Linked DNA regions of Homo sapiens. The protein of the gene in region 1 interacts with the protein of each later gene in a biochemical or structural test. Each region holds a gene or a part of one and is shown on either strand. Other genes may lie near its edges.

Region 1 (7,034 bases):
TGTAAGAAAGGCATCCATGTGTGGTGTTTGCTTTCATTTCTGCTTTCTGTTGCAGGTTGGGATTGAGTTTCAACAGCATCTCTGCTGTTGACAATGGCTCTCTGGCCAACACGCCTCATCTGAGGGAGCTTCACTTGGACAACAACAAGCTTACCAGAGTACCTGGTGGGCTGGCAGAGCATAAGTACATCCAGGTAATGCAAAGCCACTGCTTATGTGAGGAATATCCAAAAAGCAAGACCCCCACCCTGCTTATGGGATGCTGGGAAGCAGGAAGCTCTTCTTAGAAGTTTTTTTTCCAGAGTGTCTTAGTTAGAATTTCTATGACAAAATACCATAAAAAAAATTAAATCATGAAGCACAATTTACATTAGCTAGATTTCAATAAAGTTTTTGATTTAGAAGTATGGAGATGAAACTTAAAGTCTTCTGTAATGCTGATATTTTTTTCAGTAGGGGTGGTGATGTTGGTGCCATAGTGAGTAGGGGGAGTTTGAAGCCACAAGTAAAATAAAAATTCTTTTTTTTTACTGTCACTAATTTTAATTTTCAAATTATTCAAGAATTGACTGGAAAGAGCTTCTTTGGTCTAGCTCCTGATTCTTTTTGACATGGCCTCATCATTTTTCTTTATTTCCTCTAAAAAAAAAATGAGATACGTTTGCAGAATGTGCAGGTTTGTTATATAGGTATACGTGTGCCATGGTGGTTTGCTGGCCCTACTGACCCATCCTCTAAGTTCGCCCGCTCACCCCCTACCCCCTGTTGTGTGTTTTGTTACCCTCTCTGTGTCCGTGTGTTCTCAGCATTCAACTTCCATTTATGCGTGAGAACATGCAGTATTTGGTTTTCTGTTCCTGTGTTAGTTTGCTGAGGATGATGGCTTCTAGTTTCATCCATGTCCTTGTAAAGGACATGATCCCATTCCTTTTTATGGCTGCATAGTATTCCACGGTGTATATGTACCACATTTCCTTTATCCAGTCTATCATTGATGTGCATTTGGATTGGTTCCATGTTTTTGCTATTGTAAAATAGTGCTGCAATAAACATTATGTGTGCATATGTCTTTATAGTAGAATGATTTATATTTCTTTGGGTATATACCCAGTAATGGGATTGCTGGGTCAAATGGTATTTCTGGTTCTACATCCTTGAGGAATTGCTACACTGTCTTTCACAATGGTTGAACTAATTTATGCTCTCACCAACAATGTAAAAGCACTCCTATTTCTCCACAGCCTCATCAGCATCTACTGTTTCCTGACTTTTTAATAATCACCATACTGACTGGCATGAGATAATATCTCATCTCCAGCCACAGGGAATCATTAATCTATTTTATCATTTTTGTTTGTTTCATAGACCATAGTTTTGTGTAGATTCCAGGAATACTTTAACATCTAGAAATTTTATAATTTTAACTCCTGTATTTGGTTTTATAATCTAATTTTGAGATAATCCTAGTATATGATATGAGTCTAATTCATTTTCTGTATGTGATAGCAATTGTCCCAATGTCATTTGTTGGAAATAATATTCTTTCTCCAATGAATTGTCTTGTCACTGTTGAAAATCACTCGATCATAAATGTAAGGGTTTATTTCTGGACTTTCAATTCTATTACATTTATCTATATGTCTAGTCATATGACAGTATTATACCCTTCAATTACTGTAGCTTTTGATTACGTTTTGAAATTAGAAAATGTAGGTTCTCCAACTTTGTTCTTTTTTTTCAAAGTTATTTTGGCTATTCTGGTTCCTTTGCATTCCATATCAATTTTAGGATCTACTTTTTCATTTCTGGAAAAATATTCTTGTAAGGCTTTGAAAGGTATTGTTTTGAATCTACAGATCATTGGGAAGAATTACTATCTTAATAATATTGAGCCTTCCAAGTCACAAACAAGGGTTATTTATATCTTCTTTTCTTTTTCTCAACAGTTTTTGTCATTTTTAGCATACATGCCTTGCAATTCTTTTACTACATTCATTGTTTTTCATTCTTTTTGATGCTGTTTTGAATTGTTAATTTTTTTATTTGTTTGCTGCTAATGTATAAACATACAATTGATGTTTATATATTGAGCTATCCTGGTACTATGCCAAATTTGTTTTTAGTTGCAGTAATTTTTGTGAGTTCCTTTGGATATTCTATATTCAGGATATATTATTTAAAAATAGACAGCTTTAGTTATTTTATTTGGATTCTTTTAGGTCTCCCCCTCCCCCACAACCCACCCTTTGCATTGGCTGGAATCGCCAGTGCAATGTTGAACAAAGGTGATGAAATTAGACATCTTTGCCTTATTTGCTAGTTTAGGAGGAGGGAGCATTCATTTTACCATTAGTTACGATGTTAGCCACAGGTCTTCTATAGATGCTCTTTATCAAGTTGAGGAAGTTCCCTTCTATTTCTGATTTACTGAAAACATTTATTATGAATTTTTTTCTTACATGTTTTTCCTGCTTCTATTGAGATAATCATGCGAGTTTTGGCCTTTATATTTTTGATATAGTGTATTACATTGATATTACTTTGATTGATTTTCATAAGTTAAACCAATTTTACAACCCTGAGATAAATCATGTTTGGTCCTATAGCATGAAATCATTTTATATGTTGTGAAATGTAGCTTCCTAACATTTTGTGAAAGATTTTTTGTCCATATTCATAAGAGGTATTTGATTACATTTTTTTTTCTTATGATGAATTTTGTCTGGCTTTGGTCTTAGAAAATATTGACCCCATAGAATGAGTTTGGAATCTACTTTTATTTTGTTCTACACAGACTAATACTTACGTCTTGATATTTTGTTCTCTCACTTTCAATATTAACCATAAATTGCTCACCAAACACCCCTTCCTTTACTTGCTAATCACTACTGGAATATAGAGGATGGTAAATGACAACAAGAAACTTCCAAAATATGAGAACCATAAACCATACATATAAGTGTTGCTTTCACTTTAATATTCCTTGTTTCTGTTTTTATATGACATCTACTAATTCGCTTTTCAGCCCTTACAAAAACAAAGCCGTTTTCACCAGCACATGAATGTGAATGTCCTAGTGGGTAGAACAATATTTCAAATTTTTTTTTTTTTTTTTTTTTTTTTTTTGAGTCGGAGCGTCTCGCTCTGTCACCTAGGCTGGACTGCATACAATGGCACAATCTCGGCTCACTGCAACCTCCGCCTCTCGGGTTCAAGAAATTCTCCTGCCTCAGCCTCCCGAGTAGCTGGGATTACAGGCACGTGCCGCCATGCCATGCTAATTTTTGTATTTTTAGTAGAAACGGGGTTTCATCATGTTGGTGAGGCTGGTCTTGAACACCTGACCTCATGATCCATCCGCCTCGGCCTCCCAAAGTGCTGAGATTACAGACATAAGCCACCACGCCCAGGCTTTCAAGTTATGTTTTAAGGGAGTACTTCATAGGTTTTATAGCTCACTTAAGATCTTGTTGGTGGCAGGACGCAGTGGCTCATGCCAGTAATCCCAGCACTTTGGGAGGCTGAGGTGGGCGGATCACGATGTCAGGAGATCGAGACCATCCTGGCTAACATGGTGAAACCCCCTCTCTACTAAAAATACAAAAAATTAGCCGGGCGTGGTGGTGGGCGCCTGTAGTCCCAGCTACTCGGGAGGCTGAGGCAGGAGAATGGCGTGAACCCGGGAGGCGGAGCTTGCAGTGAGCCGAGATTGCGACACCGCACTTCAGCCTGGATAACAGCGCGAGACTCCGTCTCAGAAAAAAAAAAAAAAAAGACCTTGTTGTCTTAGTGTTATATTCTAACCTTGCTTGTATGATTTCAGAGAAGTTGCTTCTTGACCTACAGAACTCATATCCTCAAAGTGAACTGTAAACTCATTTCTAACATTCTTTGTATAATTCCGGTTTTTAGGGACCCTAAGAAAATCTATGGCCAAATTACCATTATCTTAAACATGATTGTAAAACATAATTCAGAAAAAAAACTCTGATTAATTATATTGCACTGTATTCAAGTAAAACGTATTACGTAAAATATGTATTTGTTAAAACTTCCTAGGTCTATTCTAAATGCTGTGATGTTTAAATATTTAAGAATTTCTTGGAGTTTGTGATTCTTTATTTCAATTCCAGTACTTTATGCTCTCTTTTTCTTTTTCACTACACAGCACTTTCTCATTCTATATCATTTTGTTAAAAGGTGTATATATTTTTTGTCCTGAAAACATAATATTTCATGTAGACCCAATATAGTCATGTAGACCTGATATATGAAATAACATTTATTCATTCAACACATATTTATTGAACACCTGGTCTGTTCTAGTACTGGAGATACAGCCATAAACAAGCAGAACCATTCTTGTCTCATGGAGCTTTTACTCTAGAGGAGAGAAACAAACAATATCAAATAAGCATAATATGCTACATATTGATAATGCTATGAAGAAAAACATGTAACGTAATTCTGCCCCAGAGAATGGCAGAATGGGATGGTCAGGGAAGGTCTCTCTGGTAAGAAAAAACGACTTACATGAGGCAACAAGCCTTGAAGACACCTTAGAGATTATTCCAGGTTGAGTAAACGGTGTTGATAACTTAAGAAGAGATCATGCTTTGTGCATTAGAAGAGCAGCAAGTAGACCAGATGACTGGCTTTTACAGTAAGAGAAAAGGAGGTCAGAGTAGAAGGATGTCAGATCATGTAGGATTTGTAGGCCCCTTTGAGAACTTTAGATTTTATTATTCTGCATGAGATTGGAAACCACTGGAGTTCTGAGGCAAAGAACATATAATTTGGTTTACTTTCTAAAGCAATTGCTCTGAGAGCTTAAAAAAAGAATAAAATTTAGGAAGGCAAAAGGGGAAGCAGGAATAATAATCAGGGCAACTTCAATCATTTGGAAGGAAACAATGGTGACTTGGACAAGGTTGTCGGAGTAGAGGTGGAGAGAACTAGATTAAGTGTACATTTTGAAGGCTGAGCTAGCAAGATTTGTTGTTGATTATGTAGAGAGCATAAGAGAATTGGAGCTCAAGGATAATGACAATGTATATAGCCTGAGCATCTGAAATGATTGGCATGCAATTTACTGAGATGGGGAAGACAAGACTAAAGAAGGGAAAAGCAAATTTTCAAAAGGAAGGGAGAAATCAAAAGTTTAATCTGAGAAGTAGTCAGTTATTCAAAGTGGGGCCTGTCGTGGTGGCTTACGCCTGTAATCCAAGCACTTCAGGAGGCTGAGGTGGCCGGATCACTTGAGGTCAGAAGTTCTAGACCAGCCTGGCCAACATGGTGAAAACCCAACTCTACTAAAAACAAAAATTAGCCGGGCATGGTGTGTGTGCCTGTAGTCCCGGCTACTCAGTAGGCTGAGGCAGGAGAATAGCTTCAACCTGTGAGGCAGAGGCTGCAATGCACTGAGGTCATGCCACTGCACTCCAGCCTGGGTGACAAAGCAAGATTCCATCTCAAAAAAAAAAAAAAAAAAAAAAAGTGAAGGATTAAAAAATAATAAAAAAAATAAAATGTTTACCTGAAGGGCCTCAACATATTTAGAGAATAATAATTATTTTCTATCGTTTCATGTTGTAGGTTGTCTACCTTCATAACAACAATATCTCTGTAGTTGGATCAAGTGACTTCTGCCCACCTGGACACAACACCAAAAAGGCTTCTTATTCGGGTGTGAGTCTTTTCAGCAACCCGGTCCAGTACTGGGAGATACAGCCATCCACCTTCAGATGTGTCTACGTGCGCTCTGCCATTCAACTCGGAAACTATAAGTAATTCTCAAGAAAGCCCTCATTTTTATAACCTGGCAAAATCTTGTTAATGTCATTGCTAAAAAATAAATAAAAGCTAGATACTGGAAACCTAACTGCAATGTGGATGTTTTACCCACATGACTTATTATGCATAAAGCCAAATTTCCAGTTTAAGTAATTGCCTACAATAAAAAGAAATTTTGCCTGCCATTTTCAGAATCATCTTTTGAAGCTTTCTGTTGATGTTAACTGAGCTACTAGAGATATTCTTATTTCACTAAATGTAAAATTTGGAGTAAATATATATGTCAATATTTAGTAAAGCTTTTCTTTTTTAATTTCCAGGAAAAAATAAAAAGAGTATGAGTCTTCTGTAATTCATTGAGCAGTTAGCTCATTTGAGATAAAGTCAAATGCCAAACACTAGCTCTGTATTAATCCCCATCATTACTGGTAAAGCCTCATTTGAATGTGTGAATTCAATACAGGCTATGTAAAATTTTTACTAATGTCATTATTTTGAAAAAATAAATTTAAAAATACATTCAAAATTACTATTGTATACAAGCTTAATTGTTAATATTCCCTAAACACAATTTTATGAAGGGAGAAGACATTGGTTTGTTGACAATAACAGTACATCTTTTCAAGTTCTCAGCTATTTCTTCTACCTCTCCCTATCTTACATTTGAGTATGGTAACTTATGTCATCTATGTTGAATGTAAGCTTATAAAGCACAAAGCATACATTTCCTGACTGGTCTAGAGAACTGATGTTTCAATTTACCCCTCTGCTAAATAAATATTAAAACTATCATGTGACTTCATGTAATCAGGCTGAACATTTCTACAATTACTAGATGTATTAGACGTAAGTATTTTCTTTAGTTAAACCACCCATGTTAGAAATGTTTTCTGTAGAATTTATAAACAACTATCAATGCAGACAATTTAATAAGCCTGGGGATGATTTACTTACAGTAAACATTTATCAAATTGTACATTTGTGCTATCAACAATTAATAAGCAAATATGTGAAAATAGTTTCTGTCTTCTATGAAGTTAGATATTTGATGGTTAAAACCCCTATAAATCATAGTTTCATATGGGAAAAAATAATTGAAATACAGTGTAAATTTAAATAATTTATTAAGTATAGCAAATAATTGAAATATGGTGGACTAAATTTTGTCATAGAAATATGTGCAAGTTATAGTAGTGGCTCACATGAGAGGTAATCAATTCTGCTAATAGTAGCAGAATGAG
Region 2 (7,034 bases), on another chromosome or scaffold:
GTGCAGGGCATTAAATATTTTAAATATTTAATTAAACACTACTGCATGAAGGGTGGGAAAAAAATGGGGCTCCATGGCTCCATTCTCAAGCCTAATCAAGAGGATTTGCTCTAATACATTACACGGGGAGAAAAGGCACTCACATTTCTTTGTCCACCCTTGTGCTTGGGCATTCACTGGAGTAGTTCATTTAATCCTCCCAAGAGTCTTACAGGGGACATATTAATCTCCTTCGACAGGTAAGAAAATGATGATGCAGAGAGGCTAAGTAGCAACCATTCTGGAGGTGGAAAGGACGAAGGCTCTGCATCAGACTGGCCTGGGCTCCATCTCCACACTGGGAGAGCCCCTCAGTGTCACTGAGTCTGTTTTTTTTATCTGGTAATGGGAATGATATCTACCACCCAGTGATGAATCATTGAGCCAAAGGCTTTATTTTTTCTTGAGTCTTTGGGATAAAGTTGCATTTTCTGCTGTACCTAATAGGTGAATTATCTTGAGCTTAGCAGAGGTACTGATGAGTAAGGGAATTGTCCCTGGAAATACTGCTCCCCGCTTGTAGGGAAAGATCTAGGTCTTACTGGCAAGAAAGGAGAATTCCATCAGCCAGCAGCATGAACTGAGGGACCTCTATGACATTGGGCAGGGCTTCAAAGGGATCAGATACAGTCTTTAACTTTCTGGAAAGACGAAGCAATATCCCCAGGCTTTGTGGGGTAAGGGGCAAGTAAGCATCTGCCTATCCCTTACAGACAGAAAGTGGCTCCCAACGTGAATGGGATGGGGCTTGGGGAGGGCTGTCCAGGGGGGATCCCAGAATGGGGGTGGGGTTCATCTTGGCAGCTCTTTCTCAGAGATTCCCAACTCAGTCTGGCCTCCAGTGGGGCCCCGGATTTGAATCTCAGGGATCTTTCCCACAATGGCCCTGGGAGCTTGCTGCCTGAAGCATGGTCAAGGCCTCCCTTCCCCACATATGTGCCTCAACCCATGCACATTCCAGGCCTGGCTTTGGGTCAGTACTTGGACACAGGACAGAACACGGTGGGGCTACAGGATGAGGCTCCACTCTGGCTTCTCAATCGCAGTCTCTCCAGTCACTCCACTGTTACAGGTCTGAGGGCTGGGTTCCCTCAGAATCCTCAGCATCCTCAGAATCTACCCAGAATAGGTCTCTGTGGGCCAAAGTCTGTGCTTGTGACAACCACCCCTGCAGAGTTGGAAGCATGTGGTTCCCAGAATCTGCTACGAGGAAAATTGGGGCTTGAAAGAAGAGATCTTTGAGCAGGGGTGGAGGGTGAAGCTTGAGTCACTCTGGTGACATCCCCGACGTATCATGGAGGGTAAATATGACCCAGATCCTGCCTTTGTGGGGAACAATTCCTTATTCCTCAGCACCTTCAGCATTCCTGCTCAGCAATATTCCGTGGGGGAGTCCCACCAGGGATGCTCGTCTCCCTTGGACAAATCACACACCTTACAGCAGCCCATGAGTCCCGGCAGGACCACCCTGTACCCCTGTACCCCTGCTGCTCCTCTGAATTTGGTGCTGCCACCCCTACTCAGCTCCAACCACATAGCTTCTTTCTGGCCCCCGGTCACGCTCAGCCTCCTCCCTCTTTAGGGGCTTGCCATTTGCTCTTCTCATAGCTGTCCCTGCAGCTCATACTTCACCTCCTTCAGGACTTTACTCCCGGATCACCTTCTCAGTGAGGCACTCCCCGACCACCCTACCAAAAACAGACCCTACCCCCAACACACCCTATGCTTTACTTTTCCCTGTGGCATTATATCTAACATATCATATGTTGTACATTTTTAATGTTTTATTATCTGTTTCTATGAGATAGAGTTGAAGCTCCCCAGAGAAGGGCTGTTTATCCCCAGTATTTAGGACAGTGCCTGGCATGTATTAGAGGCTCCAGAGATATTTATGGAGTGAGTGAATGGAAGCTGGAAGGGGTGGAGGAATTTTAGGAGTCAAAACAGGCAAAAGGCTGGGCCATAAAGCTCCACTTCAGGTGGCACTCGGGTGCAGGTCTAGGTCTCTGGGTACACTACGATACACAGTGAGTGTTTTGAAAGGCATGGGTGCAGCATTTGGGGAGGTGCCCCTCCTCCACCCTGGTGCTCTCATGGCCTCCATAGTTTGTGTACCAAGAACAAGTGGGCTCTAACACTCTCTTCTGGAGAGTGACATTTTTCTCTTGGTCCATCTTCCTGCTGCTGACTTGGCCTGGGTGAAGCCCAAGCAAGGCTCCACATGGGGTCAGGGCATCCTGCCTTGAGGAAAATGTGCTGTTGGGTGTCAGAGGTGGGGCCCATCCTATAACCCTCTGTGCTTCCATTTCATCCCTAATAAGGACTGTAACCAGTGGCTGGACCCAGGGCACGGAATTCCACTGGGCATGGAATTCAGATGTTTCCAGGTGGTGGTGCTGCTGGGATACGCCAGCACAGATTCTTCCACCCATCCAGCAAATTTACCCACAACCACATGCTCACCCCCCATGGAGGCCTGGCCTCCTCTGCCACGGGAGCATGGCTTCCAAGCCTGAAATGTCACCTCCTCTCTGCAAATCTCCCTCGATTCTCCTTGCTCTTAAAATCCCACTTTCTCTTTGAAGAAGAAAGCTCTGAGTGTGTGAGTGCTGGGGTGGGGACGCTCAGATGAGATGAGGGACACTTCATGCATTGTCCTTCCTCTCCCTTGTCTCACAGTGTATTATGAACCCCCTGCTGAGCAGGACCTGAGGCTAAGCTCAGATTTGCATCTTGCCTAGTGCTAGGTATAAAGTAGATGCTGCATAGATGGCTCTTAGTGAACAAATAAATGAGCAAATCGACCAATAACTGAATGAACAAGTTAGCACCACCTGTCTGGTGCCATTTCTGGTTGGCTTCCCTAATATATATATATGGAATGCAAGAAGTCCATGATCACAGGTAAGAGCTGACAAATTGCCTGCCATCAATACAGTGGCCTTGGGGTAGGGGAAGGAGCACCGCATAGAAGGTCAGGCAGGTCTTGGCTTTAATCCGCCTCCAACTCTGGAAGGCTTCTTCCTCATCTATAAAATGGGGATGTTGATACCCATTTCCTGGATCACCACTGGGCCTGGGTGTGTGACGGTGGAAGTCTCATGCTCTGCAGAATCCTAAAGGAATGCTAGGGGCTGATCCTGCAGGAGGCTGGCCCTTTCTGGGTCTAGGGCCAGGTCTTTGTCCATTTCTTCTGCTGCTACAGGTTTGCCAGGAGCTGCAGGGCAAGCAGGGATGCCTGGACAAGCTGGCCCAGTTGGGCCCAAAGGGGACAATGGCTCTGTTGGAGAACCTGGACCAAAGGGAGACACTGGGCCAAGTGGTGAGCAACTGGGTGTCGACTTCAGGTGTTTCCAGGTGGTGGTGCAGCTGCAAGGATATGCCAGTGGGCACGCACAGAGCCCATCCCAGGAAGAAGGTTGTCTGAAGGTGGCACTGGGTCATTTCAGGACAGATGGGACCTGCTGTTGGGAGGACAACAATGCTGCCTCCCTTACCTCTGTTATTACCCTCACCTTACTACACACTCCTCCTGCCAAGAGGATTCATTGTTACTGACCGGGCTGGTGCTTTTGCTCAGGACCTCCAGGACCTCCCGGTGTGCCTGGTCCAGCTGGAAGAGAAGGTCCCCTGGGGAAGCAGGGGAACATAGGACCTCAGGGCAAGCCAGGCCCAAAAGGAGAAGCTGGGCCCAAAGGTAGGTGGCTGGTCTGTGGCCAGTCTGAGAAGGGAAAGGAGGAAGGACAAGGGTCCATGATATGACCTGAGGCGTGCTCAGAGTGCCAGGGAGAGCCCAGACCCTTGATGCTGCAAAGGCTTGCCATGCACCCTCCCAATCCCCACAACTGCAATATTTTCCTCTCACCCTCCACAGAGGAGCCCCAGAAAGCAAGGAGAGTCTCCCCACTTCTCTCTCTGACCCTAAAGTTGCGGGCAAAAAGCTCCATTGCTAACAAAACCACACCTGCTGAACGCGCTCTTAGCTGTGTTTGTTCCTGTGTGTTCCTTCTTCAGGAGAAGTAGGTGCCCCAGGCATGCAGGGCTCGGCAGGGGCAAGAGGCCTCGCAGGCCCTAAGGGAGAGCGAGGTGTCCCTGGTGAGCGTGGAGTCCCTGGAAACACAGGGGCAGCAGGTGAGCAGTGGAAAGAGCTGGGCTGGGCTGGGTCCAGTTCTCCTGTGCCTGCTTGGAGCTGTCAATGCCTACACCCCCTCCACCACCCACAAAGGCAGAGGTGGTATCGCTGGAACATGGAGAGAATCTGTATCCAAGAAGGGTGCATGAGGGGGCTCTGGGGACTGTTCCTATCTAGGGAGAGTGAGGCGCAAGCAATGGAGAAGTCTGTATACAGGGAAGGTTAGTTGTTGGGTGGCGGGGCAGTTTTCCACAGCGGGGTTGATTGCTGGGTGACAGGGACAGTCAGTGTACAGGGAGCTGCATGGCTGGGTACTGGGGACCATCTGTCTATTTCTGGGCAATAAGGATAGTTAGTCCATGTATGGGAAGGTAAAAATGCTAAAAACAAAAAAAATAAAATGAGTACATAGCTCACCCAGTTCTTCTTTTACCCCAGGGTCTGCTGGAGCCATGGGTCCCCAGGGAAGTCCAGGTGCCAGGGGACCCCCGGGATTGAAGGGGGACAAAGGCATTCCTGGAGACAAAGGAGCAAAGGGAGAAAGTGGGCTTCCAGGTAAGGTAGCAGCTCCTGGCCCAGGGAAGCCCCGCTGGGGCATGGGTGGGCAGAGAGGAAGCCCTCCTCATCCCAGAGGAGGGGCTCTGGGATGTGTGCCCCATTAATGGCAGCTGGTGGGTGGAACTCAGGAAAGGCGGACAGGCTGGAAGGCAGGAGCATGGGGCTCTGGTCTTAGCCACTTAGTACTCATGGGAAAGCAACCTGGGCAGCTTCTCCATCTGACTATCGGGAAAACTACAACTGCCTTCCCAATTCATAGGACAGTTTTGGGCATTAAAAACCCAGTGGATAGGAAACACATGAGTGTGTATTCCTGCCCAGCAACCCCCCCACCCACCCAATGGAGATGCCATTATATTCCAAGACTTTAAAGTCACAATGTCATCTGGTTCAGTGTCAGTGAAGTACAGGCAGCAATTTGTTCATAGCAGAACCATAAGACATCCTTACACAGCAGAGGCCAGCTGTGTCAGTAGATGTGGGCTTGCTGTGGGTCAGCCCCACAATATGTGCCCGAAACTAGACACCCTTCCTTTGGGGCCCAGACTCTGAGCTCTTCCTTCGCTCTCTGGACAAGTCTTTACTTGGCCATTTTCTCCCCTCCAGATGTTGCTTCTCTGAGGCAGCAGGTTGAGGCCTTACAGGGACAAGTACAGCACCTCCAGGCTGCTTTCTCTCAGTATAAGAAAGGTGAGTTCCTGGATCTGAACCTGGACCCAGCACTGGCATTGGGCCCCACACTAGATCTTGACCTTGGTTTGGCCTTTGGCTGGGGCTAGACCTTTGGCTGGACCTGAGGCAGAGCCTGCCCTGGGTCTAGGATGGGAATGAGCTGGGACCTGTGTAGGGCTGGACCTGGGACTGTGGCAGGGGGTAGGGCTCAGGCTGGGATGGGGCTAGAAGAGGGCAGCCACCTGCTCCTGGAGCTCAAAGTAGATCCAAGGGGGCAAAGGAGGAGGATGTGGCCCCTATCACCAGCTCACCAGGCTGGCAGTAGCATAGTTAAGGCCATCAGGCTCCTGAACTACCCACCAACCTCAATGCCACCTGTGCCCTGAGATAAATTGTTGTCCTGAGTCCAGTGCAATTCAGTAGAGCCTCTCTCCTGCCTACTTTGTGCTGGTCCCTCTGATAGATAAGGGGCTACCCAACACGGGCTGCATTTCTTAGCTCAGAGGGGCCAGGTATGGGAGTCCCCAGTGATGCTGCTGCACATCCCAAGGCAGCCCAGAAACCAGATACTGTTCTGGGAACTAGGACTGGGGTTCTGCTCTGGGGGTACAAGGCAGGTGGGGGCCTGACCTTGGTATGTGGCCATCAGATATCTCACCTTAGACGTGCTCTTGGTTCAAATAGGGGGCAGGCTGCTTCTGGGCTCCAGCCACTGCTGGGCTCTACCTGCAGCTCTGGAGGTATTTTAAAGCAGACTTTGCCCTAACCCTGGAATCCTGAAGAGTCAGAGGCCTCCAGGGACACACAGCTGAGGGCCTGGTGCCTTTTTGAATCTCCACATCAGTGCCCAACTGCCCCTACTCTCCTCCGCCTTTCCTGATATCAGCTTTGAGTTCAGGCGCATCTCATTGAGCCAAAAAATAAAAGATTAAAGTTTTCTGAAGTAGTAGAGCATAAAAGGGCTGACTGGGTGCAACACAGGTTTGGCTTCTAAGTACCCAAGCTCTGAAATGAGAGTTTCAAGCATTTGGTATATATCTCTTTCTGCATATGCTCTAATTCACTCAGAGGCACAGTGACAGAAACACACAGAGGAACATGTCCATATGCACCCACTGCATGTGTGTGCACTTAAACACCATCACTCACTCCACCTCCATCTACATACATGAGCTCATATGTTGTCTATATAGCACACACAAATATGCACACACATCCAGATGAACCTTACATACTCCCACGTACCTTTGGGTAGATGCACATATATTCAAAGGCATGCCCACATATGTGCATGGCACATAAACTTAGTAATGGTACATGAACTCTTATGCTGACTTTGTTCAGGGCTGCTCTGGGTGCCACCCTGAGCCCATGGAGAATCTTAAGGACGATGAGTCAGGGTGCAGCCTGCATTCTGAGCAGCCCAACAAAGCCAGGGGCACAGCCTTCTCTGGAGCTTCCAGTGTCCTTTGCGGAAGATTTCCATGCATGGGCCCAAGAGCCACAAAGACAGACTAAAAAGAGATACTTGACATGTCACACAGGCAATGCTTTTGTGAAGTGAGCCCTCATTTTAGAGATGAGGAAATGGAAACCCTGAAAAGGGAAGTGACTTTCCCTTGCCCACGCAACA
Region 3 (4,684 bases), on another chromosome or scaffold:
CACGTGTGTATGCACGTGTGTGTGTCCATTAGACACGGCTGATGTGTGTGCAAAGTATCCATGCGGAGTTGATGCTTTGGGAATTGGCTCATGAAGGTTCTTCTCAAGGGTGCGAGCTCATCCCCCTCTCTCCTTCCTTCTTATTGACTGGGAGACTGTGCTCTCGACAGATTCTTCTTGTGTCAGAAGTCTAGCCTCAGGTTTCTACCCTCCCTTCACATTGGTGGCCAAGGGAGGAGCATTTCATTTGGAGTGATTATGAATCTTTTCAAGACCAAACCAAGCTAGGACATTAAAAAAAAAAAAAGAAAAAGAAAGAAAAAACAAAATGGAAAAAGGAAAAAAAAAAAGAACTGAGATGACAGAGTTTTGAGAATATATTTGTACCATATTTAATTTTTAAAGTCTCTGGTATTAGCCTCATAAGTTATTGACTATTCCCCGGGGTTGGCGGGGAGTGGGGACATGAGTTGGTCTGCCTGTTGTGGGGCCGGGAAGGGGAGGGAGTCAGGCACAAGTGGCCTCTTTGTTTGGTCTTAAAGGCATCCATTTCTGGGAATGAAGCCATGTTCGCTGCTAACACTTTTGGATGTTGTGAGGCCACGTGGAGTGTGTGAGAGACTAGGTTTTATGGATGGTCTGGTTCAGGTACCAGGTCTGCTGGAAGGTTCCTGTTCGGATAAGCTGGTAGCTACCTAGCTCTGAGCCTGCCTTCAAGAACACCTGTGTTCATCCTCTGATTCTCTGTGTGTACCTCTTGTGGCGTTTCCTCTCCCGGGTGTGAACATCCTAACCGTTATTGTGCAAACCCAAGAACGTCAGATCCCAAAGCACAACAACCTGGATGGACTTTGGGAACATCTAAGCAATGTAAGAGAGAGGTGCACTGAGAGTACGTCTTGGTCCCCTCCACCCTGAGAGCATCTGACGGTCCTCAGTACTGAACTCCCGGAAGCTGCTCTGAGCCCGGTGACCTCATCTGGGCCAGGTGTGGTGCCTGAGCTGAATGCTCAGGTGCTTACAGTGTTGCAATCCCTAAGAGAGTAGAGTCTGGAGGAGAAACCGTGAAAAAGACCTTACACACCACCAAGAACTTCCGAATGGGCGTGAATCCACCGTTTCTTCTCTTTGCAAAAAGAACCACCACAGCTGCTCAAAGAACACAGTGAACTCATCACTTTGGTTCATCAAAAAATCATCGCCCATGCGTTATTCCTGAGTGCATTTTCTTACAACTTTTTGACTGCTTCCTTTTCTTCTTCTCTTAAGAGTTGTGGGCTTAAGAATGGGATAGAGTCATAATGGCAACCTCCAAGCCCTCTCAATTCTTGATTAAGAACACAGGTAGACATGAATCCCAATTGTCTATTGCTATCTTATTTATATGATTCGGGAAAATACAGCATGTAAAAATATTGCTGAGGAGCCTCAGTGATTGGGTACAAGAAGCAAGAGTACAGAAATTATTTTTGCCAAATTTATTTTGTAAATATGAGGGTCTGTACCTAAATTTAAAAAAAAAACACGTAGAACTAGGTATTTTGTTCTCTTCTTAGTAAATTTGTAGTGGTTGTATACTACACTAGCTGCAATTTTCACATTTTTCTAATTCAGAAAGGTTTTTCTTATATTAGGGGAAAAAGTATTTATTTTAATATATAAAATCACTCTGAAAATCACTCTCATAAAAAATGGAGCGCATGTAAATTTTTATCAAAGAAAAATAAACAGGTGAATGGGGGATAGTGATTTTCTTTTTTCAGCACAGTCTACCTCAGTGTATTGTTAAGATGTGATTCAATCATGGACATCTTTGAGATTTCAGAATTCTACCTGGAACCGGTCTGAATCAGGGAACGTGTGTATCAGCTGATTCGAATGCCAGGGACCAGTAAGAATTTTGAGGGAGGGAGTTGGGATGGAGAAGGTATGGCCTTTATGCGAGCATAGATCCTTTTCTTCCTGGCTGGTAATATTCTTCTCTGAATTTAATCTTCCTTTAAAAAAAAATCCTCCATCTATTGTCACTATGTTCCCCAAACATAAACTAAGTTCCAGGCTGTCATGATGTATCTGATATATGGGGTAACCCAGCAAGGTGTACCTTCCTTTGGTGAGAGATGGCTGCCGGGGCAAAGACGGGCTTTGATTCAGAGCAAGCATTCCCACCTGTTCCATGGAATCCCCCTGAAGTGAGCACAAAGGTGCCCTGGGCTCCCTGATGGTTTATGCCCACTCCTTTCAGGCTGGTGATGCACCTTACACACAAACACCTAATGCAATGTCTTTTTAAATTCTCCAAGTGGGATGGGAGCATGTGAGGGAAATTCCAATCCAAAACCCATTAATGTGCTGAACGCTTTTTTTTTTTTTTTTTTTTTTTTTGCAACAACACCTTGGACCTCTGTGTTGGGGTTTGACTGACCTCAAGCTGATATTATTGGACCTTGTGCAGCTTTGATAACCCATGTGAGAGTCTAGGCAGGACCAGTGGGGCCCAAATCTTGCTGCTCTTGTACTTTTAGGCACTGCCCTTGCAGACTCACCTTTCTCCACCTGCCCTGGAGAAAGGTAGGGTGTGCTGGGCCTGCCCCTTGCAAATGGGATTCACCAGTTTCATTTATTTGACTCTACTGCCACAGTGAAAAGAGCAAACAGCTATTGGGTTGCAAACCTCCTTTGACATTAGGAAATGTTGACTTTGTAACAATAAAACTTTGGTCCTAGAAAGACACGGTTGTCCTGGGAGTTTGTAGTGTTAAGTTGCAACAACAACAACAAAAAGCAACAAAACCAGCTTAGGATAACACTTTTTGTTGCTTGTTCTTAAAGATGTCTCACTATGATTAAAACCCTTTTCATTAATGTAGTGAAAGCCACACAGGAGTTCCTTCTTCCAGGAGGAGAATACCAAGCACATCACTTTCTCTCTGCATCAGTGATGTCAAATACGCATCAGAAAATGTTCAGGTTTTAGGAGCTGTCCTAGGTGCTGTTTCATCATTGGAAGCAGTGAGAAAGAGAAGCACTGCTGCTTGTCTGGATATAGGCTGAGGATGATTGAGAGAAGCTGTGGGAACTGACACAAGGGTCTGCATAGGTCATCCTGTGACCCTGGGGACTATGTTACCAACTGACAGACAGATCTTTCACTGTATCCTAGCAGGGCAGGTAGTCCACCAAGAAATGTGCTTATTGGATTGGGAGGTGTTTATTTGTAGTCTGCTGTAACACGTGTGAAAGAGCAGGAGCGTCATCAGCATATGACTTGCGCTGGTCATCCGGTAAATGGATGTGCTGTAGTCCCAGTGCTAATCATTTCTCTCCTTCACAGTGGGTGGAAGTTTAGGGTTAAATGTCCTTTGAATGTCACCTGGTGAGTCCTTGACACCTTAGGCTCTTCAGAAACAATGGTTTTGTTGAGGATGGGGAACAGGGAATGCCGATTTTATATACATGGTACACAGAGAGGGGTGTCACTTCAGAAAATCTTCCAGCATGTTCTTCAGAATATTAATTTATATGCGAGGTGAGGTTGGGAATGAAAAGAACAGGTCAGCACTTTTTTTTTTCCTAGAACATACAAAAGAACATGGTGGACTTTCAGGGAGTGCAATGGAAGGTGAATATTTCCTTAAGGGTCCCCGAGAAATGGGAGTGAGGGGAGGGGACACAATGGCTTTTTGAGCTTACTTTTACCTTCTGATACTAGTCAAGGTCCAGAACCAGCCACCAGCCAAATTTCTATCTGGGTGCGGGCCACTGAAAATCCTTGTTAAAAACCAGATCACAAATCTGGGGCTCTTGGTCCCATTGGAGAAGGAAGGAAGAGCCTCAAAATAAGTGTGCACCCATGCACATATTCAGGAACAGCTTGTTTAGTCTTTACACTTTGCCTGAAAGTTGCTTCTCCTCGTCCCTTTGTGTGCCTGGGTGGCCTCGGCCCTGTGCGTTGGCAACGCAGGATCAAATGTGCTGCAGCTTTTGCAGAAAACAACTCAGAAACACAAAACCCCCCAACAGCTCAATTATTATTTTTTCAATGTTTTCCTACAAGAGCCAAGTAGCACCATGTACAGAAGACGCCTTTTTTTTTGGAATATTGAAATCGTTCTGCATGTAAAATATGGGATAATGACCTGTTTATATTAAAATTCTGATTAAATTATCTGAGAATACGCTTGTTTTTGTGTGGTGTCCCGGTAAGGACCTGTCGTGTGGTCGGGGGATGTGGCTATGAGTTGGGCTGTGTTAAGGAAAACCTCTTGGAATATGTAGGTGCCTTTTTTTAGAGGAGAAAAACACCTAGATTCTTCCACACATGAAAAGGGAGGTTAAATAGTTGCTACCAGCAGAGTTGATGACTCGTAGGGACATACTTGTATGGCCAAACTGGTGGTTTAAATATTGCACTATTTCCATACCATTTGGTAAGTAAGCGCTTCCCCAAGGGCTCCCAGACCTCCCCATGGTCCAACCACTAAAGGGTTCACTCCGAGAATACCAATGAACCTTCAAGATCTTGCTCTATTCTGACATGCGGGAAACTCATATGTTAAGTATTTTCAATGTCATCCTGGGAGTGGAGACCTGTCCCAGGTTGGGTGGACAGGTGAGTGACCATGGGTTAGACCATGGGATTGAAAGCCTTTTGAATAGTCTTTCTTGAGTGGCTTAAAACAGC

The links. Proteins that work in one complex are often made in the same cells at the same time.
Region 2: the proteins of DCN (region 1) and SFTPD form a complex in vitro, tested with the Homo sapiens proteins (one study listed by BioGRID).
Region 3: the proteins of DCN (region 1) and INSR form a complex in vitro, tested with the Homo sapiens proteins (one study listed by IntAct).

What each region holds. Positions count from the first base shown.
Region 1 is NC_000012.12:91,144,814-91,151,847, reverse strand, and holds part of DCN (decorin isoform a preproprotein), read left to right. Parts: intron 1-55; coding exon 56-194; intron 195-5,595; coding exon 5,596-5,790; 3' UTR 5,791-7,034. UniProt on the Homo sapiens protein: May affect the rate of fibrils formation.
Region 2 is NC_000010.11:79,939,090-79,946,123, reverse strand, and holds part of SFTPD (pulmonary surfactant-associated protein D precursor), read left to right. Parts: intron 1-3,244; coding exon 3,245-3,361; intron 3,362-3,619; coding exon 3,620-3,736; intron 3,737-4,053; coding exon 4,054-4,170; intron 4,171-4,609; coding exon 4,610-4,726; intron 4,727-5,335; coding exon 5,336-5,419; intron 5,420-7,034.
Region 3 is NC_000019.10:7,111,749-7,116,432, reverse strand, and holds the end of INSR (insulin receptor isoform Long preproprotein), read left to right. Parts: 3' UTR 1-4,168; downstream 4,169-4,684. UniProt on the Homo sapiens protein: Receptor tyrosine kinase which mediates the pleiotropic actions of insulin.